2 separate regions of the Homo sapiens genome follow, and region 1 is linked to region 2. The links come from fine-mapping of genetic effects on gene expression. A gene starts in region 2. The other region holds a variant in brackets. All regions are shown on one strand. Distances are from middle to middle. Region 1 overlaps MEIOSIN (meiosis initiator). Region 2 holds the start of DMPK (DM1 protein kinase).

Region 1 (5,360 bases), 27 kb before region 2:
GCCTGGCTCTGGCTAATATTTTTGTTTGTTTTTTTGTAGAGACAGAGTCTCACTGTGTTGCCCAAGCTGGTCTTAAACCCCTGGGCTTAAGCAATTCTCCCGCCTTGGCCTCCCAAAGTGCTGGGATTATAGGAGTGGGCCACCAAGCCTGACTTGTTTCTATGTATTAACTCACATTTAATCGTCAGGACAAATACCGAAGGGAAAAGCTAATGTGGTCCTGTTTTGCAGGTGATGGAACTGAAGCCCAGAGAGGTTAAGGTCACAGAGATGAGCCTGAGTCAGGGCCTGGCTCAGAGCCCACACACATCATCTCCATGCCACGCAGACCTCCAATCACACCCAATGACTTGCCTGTCCCCAGACACCCCGCGCGTGTCTTCTCATGCCTGCAAGCTCTTACTCAGATAGTTTCTTCTTCTTTTTTTTTTTTTTTTTTTCTGAGGCGGAGTCTCGCTCTTTTCGCCCAGGCTGGAGTGAAGTGGCGAAATTTCGGATCACTGCAAGCTCCACCCCCTGGGTTCAAGCGATTCTCCTGCCTCAGCCTCCCAAGTAACTGGGATTACAGGCACCCGCCACCACACCCAGCTAATTTTTGTCCCTGACATGTAGTGTTGAGGACTGGTCATGAAGTGAGAGACTGGAGTCAGGGAGATGAGGAAAGACACTGTTCGGAGTGATCTAGACGGGACAATTAGGCCCAAGCTAGCGCTGTAGATGAGAATGTGGATAGAAGTGAGTAAACCTAGAAGATGTTAATGAGGAAGAATCGAGAGGCCAGAGGGAAAGGCCCCAGTGACCTTGAGGGGGTCGGCTAGGAGACCCTCACTGTGTTGAGGAAGGCGGGAGGAGGTACTGGTGTGGGCGGGGAGAGGGTGAAGCATCCTCAAGGTGCCCAGTCTGGGGAAGTGTTGATTCCATTCTCCCACTGAGCCAAGGCCCAAAACAGCCCTGAAGAAACCTGAGTTCTTGCCCTCTACTTTCACAGTCCTGACTGAGCGGCCTTGGATAAGCCCTCAGTTTCCACACTGTAAAGTCAGCCTGGGGGCCCACCCTGACCCGGGACTGAGGAGCATTGTCTGGAAGGCAGGAACTGCAGTTGGATGCAGATGGGGTGGGGGATCTGAGCTGTTTCCCTCTCCATCCCTGCAGGGCTGGGTCAGAAACCAGCCTGGGGCCCAGCCAGGCGGAGGAGACACTCTACCCCCTCCAGCTCCCCAAGCTCTCAGAAGTCCTGTCTCCAGGGGGCGTGCCAGAAGCCTCGGAAGAAGAAGCTGACCCAGGCATCAGGTACAAGCTGTCACTGGAGGCAGAACTAGAAGCCCAGGTCACCCAGGAGCAGGGCTCCTTCTCCAGGGATGTCCTTACTCTGGGGGCCTTCTCAGCACCCTGTGCCGGGGTTCAACTCCCAGCTCCTCCTTGTATTAGCACTGAGGCCTCACACCCGGAAACTTGGGGTTCACTGGTCTATGGCAGAACCTGGGCATCAGTATTTTTTTTTTGAGAGAGACTCTCACTCTGTCCACCAGGCTGGAGTACAGTGACACAGCTCACTGCCACCTCTGCCTCCCAGGTTGAAACGATTCTCCTGCCTCAGCCTCATGAGTAGCTGGGATTACAGGCATGTGCCACCATGCTCAGCTAATTTTTGTATTTTTAGTAGAGACAGGGTTTCGCCATGTTGGCCAGGCTGGTCTTGAACTCCTGACCTCAAGTAATCTGCCTGCCTCGGCCTCCCAAAGCGCTGGGATTACAAGCATGAGCCACTGCGCCTGGCCAGTGTTTTTTAAAGGTCGCAAGATGATTCTGACAGGTGGACAGGGGTTGAACAAAGAGGCCTGTGATTGAGGATCTGGGCATTCCCATACCAGGCCAGGCATAGCTTTGACACTGACAAGGATGTTTCCCACCTGAACCCTATTCTGGTGACAGGCAGGTGACTCCCAGGCCCCTCTGACACCTGAACCTCTGCTCCCCCAGAAAGCCAGACTCGGACCCCGAAGCCTCGCCGCTCTCTGGCCCTGAACAAGCCTGAGAAGCTGGTGGCCCCATCCCCAGACCAGAAAGGAAGTGGCACAGGGGGGACCACTACCCCTCCAAGGTGCCCTGACTCCTGCGGTCACCCGAGGCCTGCATCATCCTCACCTCCAGGTGACAGAAAAGGAGGACAGTCCCAGCTGACGCTGTTGGATCTGGCCGAGGACACCATCCACTGTGACATCTCAAGTGGGTCTCTTTCCTCACTCTGAACTTAGTCTTTCAGTAAG[A/G]TGCCACTCTGGGGGCACCTGCTGTGTCCCAGACACAGTACCCGTAGTGGGGGCTGCAGCAGTGAATAGGAAACACCGCCTCTTACTTCTCAAGCTTGTGGCCTTGCTCTGGTGGTCTTCATCTCAGGCTGTGTCGTGGCTGTAATGGGGGGATGAGATCAGCGTCATTGTCTTGTGTGGGCTTCCCATCACAGAACCAGGGAGGAGGGCAGGGCCTCCGCCTCAGGCCTCACTTGGCTCTCCCATGCCCCAGTCACTGCACTGGTTTGGAAAACGTGTGGTGATGCTTTCAAGCAGAGAGCTAGGCCAGAGGGAGGGAGGTCGGAGCTCGAGGCTTTGAGGCCTCAAGTCATCTCGTTCCTCTATTTGTTCATTCAGCCTTTTCTTTTTTTTTTTTTTTTTGAGATGGAGTCTTGCTCTGTCGCCCAGGCTGGAGTGCAGTGGTACAATCTCGGCTCACTGCAACCTCTGCCTCCTGGATTCAAGCGACTCTCCTGCCTCAGTCTCACGAGTAGCTGGGATTACAGGCGCGCACCACCACGCCCAGCTAATTTTTGTATTTTTAGTACAAACAGGGTTTTGCCATATTGACCAGGCTGGTCTTGAACTCCTGATCTCAGGTGATCGCCCACCTTGGCCTCCCAAAGTGCTGGGATTACAGGTGTGAGGCACTGTGCCGGGCCCATTAGAGTTTTTTGTTTGTTTTGAGACAAAGTCTTGCTCTGTCGCCCATGCTGGAGTGCAGTGGTGCACTCTCGGCTACTGCAACCTCTACCTCCCAGGTTCAAACAATTCTCTGCCTCAGCCTCCTGAGTAGCTGGGACAGGCGCCCGCACCCATGCCCGGCTAATTTTTGTATTTTTAGTAGAGACGGGGTTTCACCGTGTTGGCCAGGCTGGTCTTGAACTCCTGACCTCGTGATCCACCGCCTCAGCCTCCCAAAGTGCAGGGGTTACAGGTATGAGCCACGGTGCCCAGCCCCCATTACAGCTTCTGATAGGGATGTGGGATTCAAAAAACCCAGGGGTGATTTGGGGCACCCCTCAGCCTCACACCAACGTGACACCCTGCATCCTGAGGTTTGGGCTAGGATTGGGGAGTGAGAGGGTGTGTGGCAGAAGCTGGCACCCCTTTGTCCCCTGCTTCTGGGCTTCCTGGAATTTGGTCCAGTCCCCAGGCATGGTCATCCTGATCTGCCCCTTAGGCTGCTGGTGCCAGGGCAGTGTCCAGGATGACGCACCTTTCCCTGCGCTCCTGGCTCAGGAAGATGTGGCGAGGATCCATTTTCTCAACAAGACCCAGCCCCATCCCAGGTAAGGGCGTCCCCAGGGCACTGAGTGAGTGGTGCTGAGGGGTTTGGTCTGGCGTGGGTGAGGGGTAGTGGGAAGACAGGCCAAGTCACGTCCTCTGCGGGTGCCCCTTGAGCACCAATGGAGGCCCAGCTTTGTGTCTGCCATTGTGAGCTCGCAGGAAAGCCTGACTTCCCATTTCCCAGACATGGTCACAGCTTCCTCACCAGTCTCTTTGCCTCACCTGTTGCCCCTCCATCCCATCCTCATGTGACCACATGGCTTTTCCAACACAGAGACGTTGACCACGGAGTTTGTGGCTTAAAGCCCTTCCTCAGGCCTGCAGCATAGAGTCCAATATTTTTGTTTGTTTGTTTGTTTGAGACAGGGTCTCACTCTGTCGCCCAGGCCAGAGAGCAGTGGCACAATCATAGGTCACTGCCGCCTCAACCTTCAGGGCTCAAGCAGTCCTCCTGCCTCAGCTTCCTGAGTAGCTGGGACCACAGGTGCACACCACCACACCCAGCTAATTTTTTTATGTTTATTTTTTGTAGAAATGAGGTCCCCCTATGTTGCCTAGGCTGGTCTTGAACTCGTAGGCTCAAGCAATCCTCCCACCTCAGCCTCCCAGAGTGCTGGGATTATAGGTATGGGCCACTGCACCCGGCCCGGATATTTCACCTGGCCTTTGAGACCTTCAGTGGCCCCCAACTCACCTCGTCAGCCCTCTCTCCTGCCCTTCACCCATGACTCTTATACTTCACACTGCCACACATTTGCCATTCCCCAGAAGCCCTGCGCCAGCCCCTCTGAGCTTCTCACATTCCAGTACTTCTTCCTGGATAGCCTGCTTCCCTGTGCCCCTGGAAAACTGCCCATCCCTCAGGCTGAGCCCACTGCTCTCCACTGGCTCATCATCCTCCAGCGCCCTCGGTCACAGCACTGCTTACGGGCTGGGCTATCCTCATGAGACTGTAAGCTCCCTGAGGATGGGAGCCTCGACTGACTGAGCTTTACACCCCCAGCACTCCCCCAGGGGCCAGTGCAGAGTGCCAAAGGGGCCCCATAGCAGTTTCTAGCCCAGAGTCTGTGAGTCTGACTCTGAAACTCCACCTCTTGCAGGCAGAAGCTGGTGTTCTATGATTCCAGCGAGGATGTGGACAAAGGGTCCCTAGACGCTGACCCTTGGCTCCCTGCCTGGACCCCAGAGAACAGCCCCCAAGGTGACTGCAACTCTGTCTCTCCTCCTTGTAGGCTGGTGTGGGCCTTCCCATACTTTCAGTCTGAGGATGTCTATGGAAGAGAGGAGGCGGGAAAGGGAATGGAGATCCCCTAAGCACAGGGAAGGCAAACACACAGTGCACCTGCCAGCTCTCCGCCACCGCTGCCACGGAGGCTTGACAATCAATCACCACTCTTTCCTTGAGCCCAGACATGGCCTCAGAATCATTCTGGGTCTTTTTGGTTTGTTTGTTTTCTTTTTTGAGATAGGGTTTCACTCTGTCGTCCAAGCTGGAGTACAGTGGCGCAGTCTCAGCTCACTTCAACCTCTGTCTGCTGGGTTCAAGTGATTCTCCTGCCTCAGCCTCCCGAGTAGCTGGGATTACAGGTGCCCACCACCATGCCCAGCTAATTTCTGTATTTTTAGTAGAGATGGGGTTTCACCATGTTGGCCAGGCTGGTCTCAAACTCCTGACCTACGGTGATCTGCCCGCCTCAGCCTCCCAAAGTGTTGGGATTACAGGCATGAACCACCCCTCCGAACTCTTTTTGTGTTTTTGTTTTGTTTTTTCTTTTGAGACAA
Region 2 (5,325 bases):
CAGCACCCCCAATCCTAGAGCTTCCTCTCCCCACCTCCTCGTCCAGTGACAGCACGGGCTCTTGTCCCTCTTCCTAGTCACCCCGGCCCGGAGCTCACCAGGTAGTTCTCATCCTGGAAGGCGAAGTGCAGCTGCGTGATCCACCGCCGGTCCCCATTCACCAACACGTCCCTCTCCTCACGGAAGCACGACACCTGCAGGGCACCCGGAGGAGCTGCAGCCGGAGACGGGGCGCGGATCCTCAAAGCCCCCCACGTCCGCCCAGCCCCTCACCTCGCCCCTCTTCAGCATGTCCCACTTGTTCATGATCTTCATGGCATACACCTGGCCCGTCTGCTTCATCTTCACTACCGCTACCTGAGGTCGAGATAGTGAGACAGAGTGGAGACGGCGGGAAAACAAAAGGGCTCGCCCAGACCCAACTCCACCCGCTTCTGCACCCAGCCGTGGCCCCGCCCCACCTGCCACACCACGCCCATTGGTCCCAAGCCCCGCCTCCAGCCCAGCCCTAGGTTCTAAGGCTCGGTCATTCATCAATTTCTAAGGCCCCGCCCCAACCCCTATGCCCCGCCCACCACGAGTCAAGTCAGGCTCCCGCCCGGTTCGGCTTACCTCGCTGAACGCCCCGCGTCCGATCACCTTCAGAATCTCGAAGTCGTCCCTCTGCAGTCGGACCTCCTTAAGCCTCACCACGATGGGCTCCGCTGGGGGGGTGGTGGGGGAAAAGAACCGAGGGTCACCAGAAAGGGCACTGGAGACAAGGGGGAAAGCCCCACCCTCTGTCTGTCTCCCCTTCTCTCTGCCTCTCAGCTTCACCCTAGGACTGTCTGCTTCCCAGGGGCTTCCCCACATAAACACCGTGTAAGGTTCTGGGGGCCAAAAATGCCCTCCCATAGAGGTGAGATGCCTGAGAAGCCCTTTGCGGGACAGGGCATTGGCCCAGAGGGCTCCAAGGGTGTGCAGGATGGTTAGGGTGGGGTAACGGAGTCTGCAGAAGGACAGACCCTAAAGAACAAGGGGAGAAGGAAATAAGACCCAGTTCTTCCACCTTCCACCCTGACTCCAGGTGACAGTTCAGGTGCAGCCAGGGCCCCACCCCCACGTTCTCATGTAGAATGTCCTGGGTAACGGCCCAGACGTGGGGTTGTATCCAGTACCTCTAGATTCAGATGCAGGTGGTTCTTGAACCACACTTTGGAAAACCCTGGATTTGGGGCTGGGGGAAGGAACAGGACAGGGAGACAAAGGTAGCATGGTCACATATCCCAGACTCAAGTGCTCCGGTCCAGCCCATCTCTCAGTCCTCCAGGAGGAGTGCTTTAGTCCTACCCCTTATTTACAGATGACAATCAGGCCTCTCAGAAGTCAAGGTCCTATGACTAGGAATGTTAAACTGGGCAGCCTGGGTGGGGGACCAGCTGGGGTGGAGGCTTGTGGCTCAGGGACTGTGGGGACAGGGAGGCCTGGACTCCCGGGGGTGGAAGAAGTGGAGGCAGGATGGAGAGAGGGATGGGTATGGGAGGGGAGGGAAGGAGAGGAGACAGTGGGTTCTGGAGGAAAGAGAGGGGTTCCGGGGGGTTCCGGGAGAGTGGGCCAGCAGGGACGAACCAGCCAGGGCTGAGGACGGGGGAGGGAGGAGAGAGCCAAGACATTGAGCCCTTTTAAGGCAGCAGGAACCCTGGCCCCCTCCCCCGCCCCAGGCCTGGCAGGGGAGGGGCCGCGAGATGCAGCTCGGGCCACAAAAGGAGTGCTCCTCCCGGGAGCGCCAGACCCCTACCCCACCCGGTCTCAGTTTACCCTGCCAACCCAACTTCATCCTCTACTAAAGGGAGGCCAGGAGAGTCATTAGGGGCTGTGGGAGGTTGGGAGAAGGTTTTTCCAGAGGCTGAATGGCCTGGCCCTTCTTGGCCTCCACCTTCCCATCTGTGAAATGGGAGGAGGAGGGAAAGGAACCAGGCCTGGGTCAGAAAGAGATGGACACAAGAGGAAGCAGGGGAAGGCGGAGAAACAGGAAACAAGTGTCACACACAGTTTGTTACACACAGGCCAAAAACCAAACACCAGTCACTGAGGGCCAGACATATGAGGGCCAGAGGGGCAGGGTGCTGGGAATGAAAGAAACCAGTGACCAGTGAGCCCGAGTCCTGGGCTTGGGGAGGAGGTGGGCAGACAAGGCAGCTGGCAGAAGCGGAAGCATCCTCCTTCCAGCCCTGGCCCCAGGCCCTGGAAAGCCCTTGCAAGAAGGGGTTTTGTGGGACAGCTGGAAGGTTGGAGGCCCTGGGCCAGGAGAACTAAAGGACGCAGGGACCCGGGGTGGCGGGAATGGTGGCTGACCCACACGGCTCATAGGAACCGAGACTTTGGGGCTGGGGGTGGGGGTGGGTGCAGAACCTACAAAAGAAGGAGACACACCCAGAAGAACCCAAAGTTGTCCCTCCTGGATCGCAGAGGAGGGGGCACTGGTGGCGCCTGTCTGCAAAGCTGGTTCTCCCACAGGGCCCGCGTGAGTCACCGCCCTCCCAGTGCCTGGGCACCTGTTGGGGCAGCTGGAGAGGCTGGCGCCGAACACCTGCCTGTCGGCTGCGCCCCTGGCAGCTGCCCCATGCTGGCCCTCCTGGCTTGCCCCAGGCCACAGGAAACCAGGGGAGAGGGCCATAGAGCCCACTTTTGGGGGGAGGGTCCTAGGAGAGGGAGCTCCCAGCATGACCCTGACCCTGACCCTGAGGCGGGGTGCAGAGAGGCCATGGGAGGCTGTTGGCAGCCTAGCCTGCTGTGACTCCTAAGCCATGGCTCTGAGTCACAGCCACCCTAGCCTCTGCTGACCTTACTCTGCCCCTCCAGAGTGGTGGCATAGGACAGAGAAATGTTGCCCCAGGGCCCAGGTCCACACTCTGAGCCCCAGGATGGGAGGATCTCCCCATGCCCATCCTGCCATCCTGCCCCCCCAACAGCCAGGCCTCTGTGCCCAGACCTGTCTCCTGCCCCACCCCCACCCCATCTGCAGGAGCCCCGAGGGTAGGCACTCACCCCACTGCAAGAAGTCGGCCACGTACTTGTCCTGGGCCAGTTCGGAGGCGCCCAGCTCCTGGTGGACGCCCAGGAGAAGGTCGAGCAGGGGCTCCAGCCCCAGGAAGCCCGGGTCCAACACCAGCTGCTGGAGCCGCCTCAGCCGCACCTCGGCTGACATGTTGGACAGGCAGCACCATGGCCCCTCCCCGGGCCGGGGGCTCGGGGTCCTCCTGTCACAGGGCCTGGCAGCCCCTGTCCAGGCCCTGGAGCCCTGGCTGCATGTCTGCCTGTCCCTGGCTGTCCCCTGGGCCTCTCTGGCCACTTCTCTCTGCGGCCGGCCGAGGCCTCCTCCCCTTCTCCCCACCCCTTGGTCCAGCCCCCCTCCCGCCTCCCAGCCTTAACCCCTCACAAGCCAGCCCCCCAAGCTCCCTCCTTCCAGGGCCCTTCAGAACCCTTCAGTGCTAGAGTAGGGGGAATGCATGGAGAATCTCAGCTGTCACACTGTCACCCCAATAAAAAGGTAGAGCACAGAGGAAGCCACAGGTGTGATGAATTTCAAGAAGAACCTGCCCATTGCTGAAACAGGGCCAATTGAGGCTGAGTGACCCAGTAGCAACCACCCCCTTGCTCCCGACAAGCTCCAGAACTGGGGGCTAGGGGGTGAGGGCTGGGGGTTGGGGCTGGGTGGGAGAAAGGGGTTGAGGCCTGGGAAGGGGACGGGAGGCCAGGGCAGCTTCTTGGGTGACTCAGAGATGGATTCCGACTCGGACAGTTAAATTTAGCCCTCAGGCTCTCTGCTTTATACCAGCTTTTTTTTTTTTTTTTTTTTTTTTTCCCAGGAGGTGGGGAAGGGGTGGTGAGGACAGGACCAGGAGGGGGCACCCTCAGAGCCTGAACAGGGGTGACCTGCTGCCCAAAGGCTGGGGGAGGAAAGTGGTGGAGCCAAGCCCTCCCTGGGCAAACGAGACCCCAAAATAGCTCCTTGGCCCCTGGCCGGGGAGCCACATTCCTGCCCAGGCTGGGATTAGAAACAGAAACATTTCGGGGGGTGGAGGGTGGCGCGGGAAGACACACTCCCTGCGGCTCCGAGAGCCAAGAGGAATCTGAGCTCTTCTTTCCAGGGTGGACGGTTCTCCAGAGTGGAAGTCGGGGCCTCCAACCGGCCTGGGGTGCCTGGGCCTTGAGAGGGCCAGGCCTGAGAAACTAGGAGGCAAGGACCGAGGAGTCCCAGCTGGGCAGGGCCTGGGAAACGTGGTCCTGGGCAGTTCTGATAATTTAAAAAACACCGAGGACTTTGATGAGGGGCCCTGGCTGCGGGCAGGATGCTCTTCTCCCCAAGAGGGTCCTGCTCCAGCCGCTGGTGTGGGTCACCAGTTGTGTGACTCGCAGGTCCGTTCCCTCCCTGGGCTCCGGCTTTTCCTGCTATGAAAAGGGGTGGGAGGCGCTGGGCTGGGAGCAGGCCTGCACTCCTCCTCTGGGGAAAGCGGACTGCCTAGAACCACAGAGTACACACACAGGTCCTCTACATCATCTCCTCCGAAGGGGACAGACCCGCTGAGAAAACAGGGAACTTTAGTATAAATAAGAGGTCCTGCGGGACAGGGAGGAACCTGAGGGGCTTCCATAATTTAACACTCTTCAAAAGCACAGACAATAGCAAGGGCAGCTGGGGTGGGGGCCGGGCGAGGGCTGGACCACCCCCGGCCCTGCCCACTCAACTGAGGGGCACACTGCAGACCTGGGGCTCTTGTGGCAGGGGCGGGGAGTCTCTCCCCAGGAGTGACCAGTCACATGCTGGGGACAGGGATGAGGGTAACACTGATGTTTCAGAGGAAGAGGTCATTGTACTTGGCAGTGGGTGGGGGACAAGGCTGAGGCCACAAGGGCTATTACATCGCCCGTGTCCGGGCCAGTCTGGGGGGCCCCCAAATTTTGTGCAGGTGGGGGGACTGGAGCAGTCCATCCATCATGGTTAGTCTTGTTAATACGTTGATCTGTGAGGTCAGCAGGGAGGGTTATGGCTAGGAGGCTGGGGGCATGGGGTTGGGGGGGCCCGATATCCATGGCTTCACACCACTGTGCCACTCGGGGAGTTGCCTGGTTGGGAGGAGATGCCCTGGGGAAGATGAGAGGGAGAGATGGGAGGGGTTAGAGACCACCTGGGCTTCAGCCAGTGTCAAGGGGAGGGAGCCAGCCCAGAGTCCCCAAAGCTGCTGCCACCCTGGCCTTGCCCTTGGGTCCGCCCTAGACCCCCCAGAGGCCACTGCTCTAGGCTGGGAACTTGCATCTTAGCTAGCTTCCTGTCCTGGCAGTCAG

What was found.
Region 1: its variant is fine-mapped to the expression of DMPK in whole blood (INTERVAL, PIP 0.93).

The regions. Positions count from the first base shown.
Region 1 is chr19:45,752,499-45,757,858 of GRCh38, forward strand. MEIOSIN (meiosis initiator) reads left to right here. Exons shown (of 15, transcript NM_001310124.2): 6 at 1,153-1,290; 7 at 1,981-2,226; 8 at 3,472-3,580; 9 at 4,679-4,779. Among named protein-coding and RNA genes, the nearest start is that of DM1-AS, 13 kb to the right of the region's middle. The variant A/G (reference allele first, on the strand shown) is at 2,268.
Region 2 is chr19:45,779,166-45,784,490 of GRCh38, forward strand. DMPK (DM1 protein kinase) reads right to left here and starts at 3,325. Exons shown (of 15, transcript NM_004409.5): 1 at 3,028-3,325; 2 at 613-704; 3 at 274-357; 4 at 99-194. The coding sequence starts at 3,187. DMWD (DM1 locus, WD repeat containing) reads right to left here. Exons shown (of 5, transcript NM_004943.2): 5 at 3,782-5,125. The coding sequence ends at 5,078. RefSeq lists a silencer at 387-556.